2 separate regions of the Homo sapiens genome follow, and region 2 is linked to region 1. A link means that fine-mapping ties the variant in region 1 to the expression of a gene that starts in the linked region. Tissue or cell type: whole blood. Region 1 holds a variant in brackets; the other region holds the start of a gene. All regions are shown on one strand. Distances are between the middles of the regions.

Region 1 (4,000 bases):
GGATGTCCCTATCATTTCCCCTTCCAGTGGTACCTGCTTCAGTCCTCCACATTACCAAGGCTGGAAGAATCTTTCTAGATGAGGAGTCAGCGGTGTCATAATCCTGCTGAACTTCCCCCTGCTCCAGCAAAGGCTACTAATTTAGTTCAGGGTAAAATGCACGTTGTGAGTACAGCTCCTCAAGTCTTTCTTGACCTGCTCTAACCTCCTTTATAAGCCTCATCTCTCTCTAGACCCCAAACGTGCCCTTGGCTCTGGCCCCAGAGTTCTCACCAGGAGCTGCAGGTGGTATTGGAGTCACCTGGGCACTTTTCCAAATTAACCAGCCCTGGAAGCTTCTCTGTGTCCGTGTCAGTGGGAGGAGGAGTGAGGAATGGGTCAGGGAGACTGGCAGCAGGGGGAGGAGGGCTGCCTGTGTACTGTTTCAAATAGAACCATAGGCCAAGCCTTCTACCTCTCTAAGCCTTGACTTTCTCATCTGTAAAATGGAGAGAATAAAACCTTCTTGAGCAGATGCTATGGGAGTGAGACTGTGTGTAAGGCATGAGCATAGTGCTTGGCACATAGTAGGTGTGCTTGCAAGACCAGGGCCAAGCTCTGGCTGTGGGCTGCCCAGCTTCCTGGGCACTCCCTTTGGACAGCTGAGGTTCCAGGTGATAGCCATGGCGCCCTGGCAGGCACGGATTCCAGGGAAGACACTTCCATGGTGGGTCTGCAGCGGATCCAGTGACCTACTACTCAGTTCCTGCTGCCCAAGCTGTTCCAAGCACTGGATAGACACATGGGAAATCAGGGATATCTGTAATTTTTCCAAGTACAAAGGCCTGATCATTTGTAAGACCCCAGCTGATTGCTTCAGCATGTAGGCATGGACAGGATGCTTTAGAATGTAGTAGTTGAGGGCAGTGTGACATCCACCTCCCTGAGTTTAAACCACTGGGGTACCCCTTGCAAGCTGTGTGATCCTGGGCGACCCATTTAATGTCTTGGTGCCTTAGGTCCTCATATGTGAAAGGGGATACCAGCAGTGCCTACTTCATGTGCAGATGGACATGAGGGGTCCATAAGAGAACGGTGCCTGGCACATACTAAACACTCAATCAATGCTAGCTATTGTGATTATTTAGACTTTGACTCTGGGTACTGCTAGGGCAGCCAACAAATGTCCATGGATGATGTACTGAGTAAGCCAGGAGGCCTTGTTTTTCTTAAACAAATGTCCCAGAGGTACATGCTCTCGCATACCTTCATGCCTTTGCCTGTGCGGTTCCCGCTGCTTGGCCAGCAGGTGATTCCTCCTCTGTGGTTCAGCTCAGGCACCCCTCCTCTGGGTGCCCCTCCCCCATGCTCCCACAATGCCTCCTGCCAAGCCCTTTCCTGCTCTCTGTGTGTGGGTGCCTACAGGGCTGGGAGGGTGCACAGGTTGGACTATAGCTTTTCAGCTCCAAGCCCTCAGTGTCCCTCAGCATCCTGGCCCATGGGATGCAGTTGGAAAATGTTGGTAAAATACATGCAGGAATGAATGATTCAGTTACATAAATTGTGCATTTGAGCAGGGCCACGTTGGGGGTTATGCACTTAACGGGAGCAACATTCCCTGTTGCTCACCCAGCTTCTGGATTCTTCCGCAGGAAAGCTCACTCCGGGGTGGGGACCTCACCTTTGTAGAGCGGTGTCTCTCGGGATTTGTTGGAGATGTCCGGCTCTGCCCCTGCTTGGAGCAGTGACAGGAGACAGTCCAGGTGGCCCCTGCACGTTGCCAAGTAAACGGCTGTTTCCTCCTGCAGGGTGCGCTGGTCGATGGTCCCTGGGTACGCTAGGGAGGGCCCACCGGGAAATTCATGTAGGAGAAAGATACTCAGCCCCGCAACACAGAGGCTTTCCCGATTGCCTCCCAATTTCAAGAACAATGTATGACATCCTCTGAAATTTACCAACTACAGACTGCATTCATCTGGCCCTTTCACAGGGCCATTTTAGCTTCCTGGTCGTACACGTCCAAGCTCAGATGCCACGTCCTCTGAGAAGCCTTCCCTAATGGAGCCCCTCCCTCTTCGAATACTCCTGTCCTT[T/C]CCTCGAACTCACACCAGCCATTGCTGGAAACCCACTGTTACATGCCATGGTTTCTTGGAGTGTCGGGGGCCGTGTGGGGTCTGTGCTGCTTCAGGGCAGAGGTGACACCTGCCTGCAGGAGTTGCCCTTCTGAACCTGGCTCAGTAGGAAGACAGGGCTCAGAGAGGAGGCACGGCTGTCCCGCGGTCCCACAGCAGGTGGGGGATAGCCTTGGCCGGGCACAGGCACAGCTGCAGTATTTTTCACACCAAATCAGCCCCTGGGACATTCTGGAACAAGTTGGCAGTGGTTCTTCTAAAAGTCAGCCCTCCCTCATTCCTTTTCTAGGAATTAGGCTCTCCTGTCCTTGGAGGCCTGGAGAGGTGGCAGCAGGGGGTGGGGACAACTCATTTCCCCTCTCGTAACTCCATGACTAACTGACAAATGAAAGTGACAGCCTTGCCTGCCCTTCTCCCAAGATGATTGTGGGCAAAGAACATGAAGCCCCAGGAGCGGCAGCCCTTCCCCTAGTCCCTTTCCCACCTCTTGCCACCGTCAGAGCCCAGCCCTCACCTCGCTGCAGGACTTTCAGGCAGCCCACCTGGCCATAGTATGCGGCCTCGTGCAGCGGCAGCCAGCCCTCCTTGTTGGGCTCTGCGAGATTCTTCCCTTCCTTGATCATGGTCTTCAAGGCCTCTTCATCGCCATCCTTGATGGCCTTTATCAAGGGGTCCGCAGGCCTGTGAGAGGAAGGAGTGGGTCAGTCCTCAAGGTCAGGCCAAGGCCAGGCCAGGGGGCCTCTCTCTCAGGAGTGCTGGCAGTGGAGTCACTCGGTCCTCGTCCCTGCTGGTTCCAGGATGAGCACTCAGCCCCCTGCAGCCCAGTGGCTGCAAGAGGACTGGGGGATCCCTCCATCTCTGTGGCTTTCCATGGCTGCCGGGAATGTTATACCAAAACCAATTCTACCAAGAGGATTCAGGCACACAATGCCAGCCTCCTAGAGGGTGGCTAACCACCCACATGTGAGGCACTTGTGATAATTAAATGCTTTCCCTGAGTATAGCACTCTAGCATTTACCAGGCACGCCCATCTCGGGGGCCCCCTCTTAACCCTGAGCATATCTCTGGGGTCTTCCAACTCCTCTCCTTGCCCTGTCGCTTATTCCTACTCCCAGTACATCCAGCTGCAGAAAAAAAATATATACTGGAAGGATTAATAAATTTGAAGCCTTCACAGTTTAAAACTTCTGAATGTCAAAAAGATTTGAGGGCTAAAGTGAAGCCGTTCCTTGCTTGGCTTGTTAAAGTCCCTTTGTTCATTCATTGCTTCCTTCCTTCCTTCATTCATTCACTGAGCTCCCTACCTCATCCTTGGAGAGTCCGTGAGAACCACGATGTCTATGCCTCTCAGATCCACTTTTGGGGAGGCTTCTGCATCAATAGTCCCATTTCCCAGATGGAGAAGGTGAGGCTGGAGGCAGGCCTCATTCCCAGGACACCCACGCCATGTTGGGCTAGGATGGGCTCTGGGCGGTCTCTGCCACCAGCCCCTGCACTCTCCCAGCCACTTCCTCCAGCGTGAGCAGCACTTCCTCCTGACTCTCAGACTCTGTGGTTATTAATGGTGTCAGAGCACAGATGCCGGTGAAGCAACAGACCCAGCAAGGACGATGGGAAACTGATCAGATAAGTCCTGAGGTCCCCATCAGCACCGTCACTGCCACCTTGACGAGTTCCACTTAGGAACAGCCAGAGCAGCCCCTGTCAGCATCAGGAAAAGCCCAGTGGGGGTATGTGCCCCCCTTTTCCTGGAGTGTCTCCAAAGGGACCCCAGCTGAAGTGGAAGGGAGGAGGGCTGGCTTTTCTCGTGGCCTTGGCGAGCAGGGCGTGGTGCAGTGTCGTGAGAACACTTTCAGGACCTGCCGCCCAGCTTGGGTCTCTCCAGCTG
Region 2 (4,000 bases), 23 kb after region 1:
CCCCCGCCACCACAAGGCACTCATGACCCGGCCTGTTTGTGCAAGAACAGATGATGCAAACCAGCATGGCACCCAGCGGAGCTGCTGCCAGCTTCTTGGGGACGCTGTGCAGCACATGGGCCTGCCACCAGCTGTCAGGACCCGTCCAACTGTTTTGGAAGTGCCTCGAGCATCTGCCACTGTCTGCCTCATGGTGCTTCTGCCCAGGCAGAGGTCAGGGCTGTGGCGGGGGTGCTGGCCCCAGCTGGCTCTGCCTGCGTCCCTCTGAGCCCCCTCAAGCCCTCGCCTCACGAAACAAGCTTATCTTCAGAAGAGCATTCCTGTCCTGTGCAGGGGCTCAGCTTCTGCCCTGCTTCAGGCCTTCCTCATTTACCTGCCCTCCCTAGGAGTCACCAGCCTCCTTGCCTCCTCATTCCAGTGCATACCCCTGGCTTCCCGAAGAGCCACCGAAGCCAAATCTCACATCCTCCAAGGGGAATGGGCCACTGAAATGAAAATGATTCTCCACCTAGAGGCACCAGAAACCAAGTCATGTTTCTGGGCCTCCACCTCTGGGGCCTGAGATGTGAACACACGGGTGGGAGTGTAGGTGCCTGGCTGTGTCCCTTCATATCCCAGATGCTCAATGCATGTGGCTATGTGCATGCCGTCCTCTGCTCAAAAACTCTCAGAAAGTGTTCCAACTTCTTGCTTGGCCTGGAAGGATGTGCCTCTCCCTCTGGCCTCCCCTTCTAGCCTCACCCCCATTTTTCACATGCAGAACCCTTTGCCAGAGCCACATTTCACTTTCCATCATCACCCCAGGTCCCTTGACTTCCCTGCCTTTGCCCAAGCTGCTCCTCCACCTGGAGGTCTCTGTTTCCACCCTGAGGCATCCCACCCATCCTTTCAAAGGCCATGGCCTCCTTAAATGTGTCATGCATATGCGTGTGCACACACATGCATGGTATTCTTGCATCCCTGCATTCCACAGCTTTGTTGGATCTCACATAAATAACATTCCTCCATTTCCTCTCCTAATCCCCAAACAGTTGAAAGCAGAGCACATGGCACCTTGGCTGCTATGGTCTCCCACAATACCGTGCATGCCTAGGCACTCTGCAACAGCTACATTAAATTAACTCCCACTCATGAAAACCTCTATCTGTGCGCCTGGCCTGAAAGCATTTCTGAAAGTCACTTGTCTGACACAGATACCGCCCAAGACCTACAGACCCAACAATAGCATCATTGATAAGTCCTTTTGCATTTCCATTTTTAGAAGTGCACAGCAGAGTGATATTCTGAGCCAGAGTCCTCCAGAAGAATGGGTAAGTACATGCAAATTGCTGAGTCTCTGTTCATTGCATCCAAAACGAAAGTCACCAGCGTGCTGTATAACTCAAGAAAATACGAGAGAGAGGGAAAAGCAACATCACAGTTTGACTACAAGCGGTTTCCAGTAAGTACTGCAGCCGAAAATCCCCACCAGCCAAAGAATCTTTTGCAAGATCTGTATAAGAAAGTTGAAAGCATGCATTACCTGTTAGGCTCTGAAACAAGGGTACAATTCAGGGGTAATACAAAGGATTTTCTTGAAAGTGTCTTAATTCAGAACATGCTCCCCGAGTTTTCCTTCTGCCCTGGCCCCAAGCTTCTGGCTGCTCTGCCAGGCAGTTCTGAAACGCTGTCCTTTGAAGCAGGGAGTTTATTTTGGGGCCACCGCATGACCAACGTTGACAAGCCAAACTATAAGATGTTATACATCTCAGATTTCCTGTTTGGAGGTTGCACTGAGGAAGCTGCAATCCTGCCTTCCGTTCCTCCGGGTGCATCGAATACAGACTCTCACTTCAGAGAGGATCCCGGAGCTTTGGCCCTCACGTGATGTCATCATTTGTGATCCTTGACATGGAGGCCATATATGGGTATGTTTCTGGAACTACCCAGGGGAGAGCCAGACAGGAGAGAGATGCAGTGGGTCAGAGACAGAGGCAGGGAACGAGGACGAGGAGACGCATAGTTGGGAGACAAAGAGTGAGGAGCAAGGGAGGAGGAAGAAAGGGGAAGAGGAGAAGTAAAGGCAACAAAGGAGGGAAGGCAAGACAGCAGGAAGGAAGAGGATGGAGTGAAAGAGAAGGGAAGAAGGGGAGAGAGGAGATGAAGGAGTTGACGTAAAAGGGCTTTGGAGAAATCAAGGTTTGGTGCTGAGCTTGTGGCAGCATTTGGGGATAGCAGGTGTCTGGCTGCTGGATACTGTGGGGTGGGGCTGGGGATACAAAGGGCCAGGGTACAAATGAGCCAACAAACAAACACAGAGGCATGCGGGCAAGCCCTGGGCAGAGATATACAACAGAAGAGAGCCCTTCCTCCTGGTCTAGGGAAGAACGTCCCATTTCTGGAATAGGTCAAATGTCAAAGACAACACATACACAGCCACATGCACTGAGCATCCGGGATGTGACAGGACATGGCCAGGCACCTACTCTCCCACCCGTGTGTTCACATCTCATGCCTCAGAGTTAGGGGTCCAGAAACATGACTTGGTCTGTTCCTCTAAGGGGAGAATCATTTTTGTTTCAGTGGCCCATTCCCCTTGGAGGATGTGGATTTATGATGGCCACAGCATGATTTCTCACTGATTCAAACTCAGGAAACCTCAGGATGCCTTTACACGCACTTCGAATATTCCACAAGGAAATACATCTCAGTATACAAGGTGCCACGGGGTTGAGTCAAGGTTCTGGAGGTCTGACTGGTGCTAAAGATGGGAAGGACACCAGTGGTCCCCAGGCAGTCCCCCAGCTTCCCTGGTACCTGCCAAATTGCTCATCACCCCAGCTGGGTCAGTCTTCCCAGGCCACTGTGGCTGGGTGGCCCTCAAAGTTAGCTCAAGTTCAGCCCCTTCCAGACCCATGTGCTATGGAGGGAGTGTAGGAGAAGGGCAGAGAAGGGGCTGTCAGATTCTTTTTACTTTTTGGAGACTCTGCTACCCAGTAGGATGTTCCCCGAGAGACGTCTCTGTGGGACGGCTCCCCGAGGCCGGGCTGCTTTCCTGGGCTCCTTGCTGGAGGCAAAACACAGGTTCCTCTACTTCCTGCCCACCACCTGCCCCTTCCCAATCTGACCTGGAAGGTGGGCTGTGGCCAGGCCAGGCCCCTCCTAGGTTGCCCTCTGCCTCATGGGCATGCACACATGCACACACACACACACACATACACACCCCAAACTCCATCCAAGATGTGTCTATTCCTTCCCTCCCCTTGAATATGGGGTGGCCTAGTGATGGACTTAACAATAGAATGCAGTGGAAATGATGTCCTGAGACTTCCAAGGCTAGGTCATGAGATGCTTTGTAGCTGCCATGTTGTGAGGAAGTCCAAGCAAGCAACACCCAGGGCCCCCAGAGCATCTAGCACCAGGCAGAGGGGTGAAGACACCCTCTCGGAGGTGGATCCTTCACCTGCAGCTGCCACAGCTAATGCCACGTGGAGCAGAGACAAACCACCCACAACTTCCTGACCCATAAACCACAAGCTATGATAAAAGGATTGTTTCGTGCCACTGGGGATTGAGGTAGTTTGATATGTAGTAATAATCAACCCAGACACTCACCAAATATTCACTGCGGTCTCAGCTGCATGCTCCTCAGCTCTCGTGTGCTACCCGTGAACTTTTTTCTGACTTTCCACTTGTCTTTGTTTCCATTTAAAAGAAGAAAAACAGATTCAAACTAAATTTTTTTTTACCTCACTCTTTACAAAAGAATGTAGTCCCAAGTCATTTCCCAGTTCTTGGGTTTATCAGACCAGAAGCTCCTTTTGGCTGAGATTCTGTCTTACAGGGGAATTGTGGTCCCTCTAACTGGAGGGACTCTTGGCTATCCTGGTGTTCAGAGCCCTCATTTACTAGTTCAGGCCCCAAGAGGTTCTGTGCCTTCTCTGAGATCACCTGGCAATTTGGGGGCAGAATAATTCACACATTGAAAGCCATGCCAGTGGGAACCATGCCCCATGGGATC

Evidence for each region. PIP is the estimated chance that this variant, and not a neighbour inherited with it, causes the effect.
Region 2: it holds the start of ASB2, and the variant in region 1 is fine-mapped to the expression of ASB2 in whole blood (TOPMed, PIP 0.94).

The regions. Positions count from the first base shown.
Region 1 is chr14:93,951,692-93,955,691 of GRCh38, forward strand. ASB2 (ankyrin repeat and SOCS box containing 2) reads right to left here. Exons shown (of 10, transcript NM_001202429.2): 4 at 2,626-2,792; 5 at 1,661-1,816. Among named protein-coding and RNA genes, the nearest start is that of MIR4506, 5.4 kb to the left of the region's middle. RefSeq lists enhancers at 2,207-3,184, 3,295-4,000. The variant T/C (reference allele first, on the strand shown) is at 2,073.
Region 2 is chr14:93,974,912-93,978,911 of GRCh38, forward strand. ASB2 (ankyrin repeat and SOCS box containing 2) reads right to left here and starts at 1,659. Exons shown (of 10, transcript NM_001202429.2): 1 at 1,523-1,659. LOC107984663 (a long non-coding RNA gene) reads right to left here. Exons shown (of 4, transcript XR_001750861.2): 4 at 2,514-4,000. RefSeq lists an enhancer at 140-711.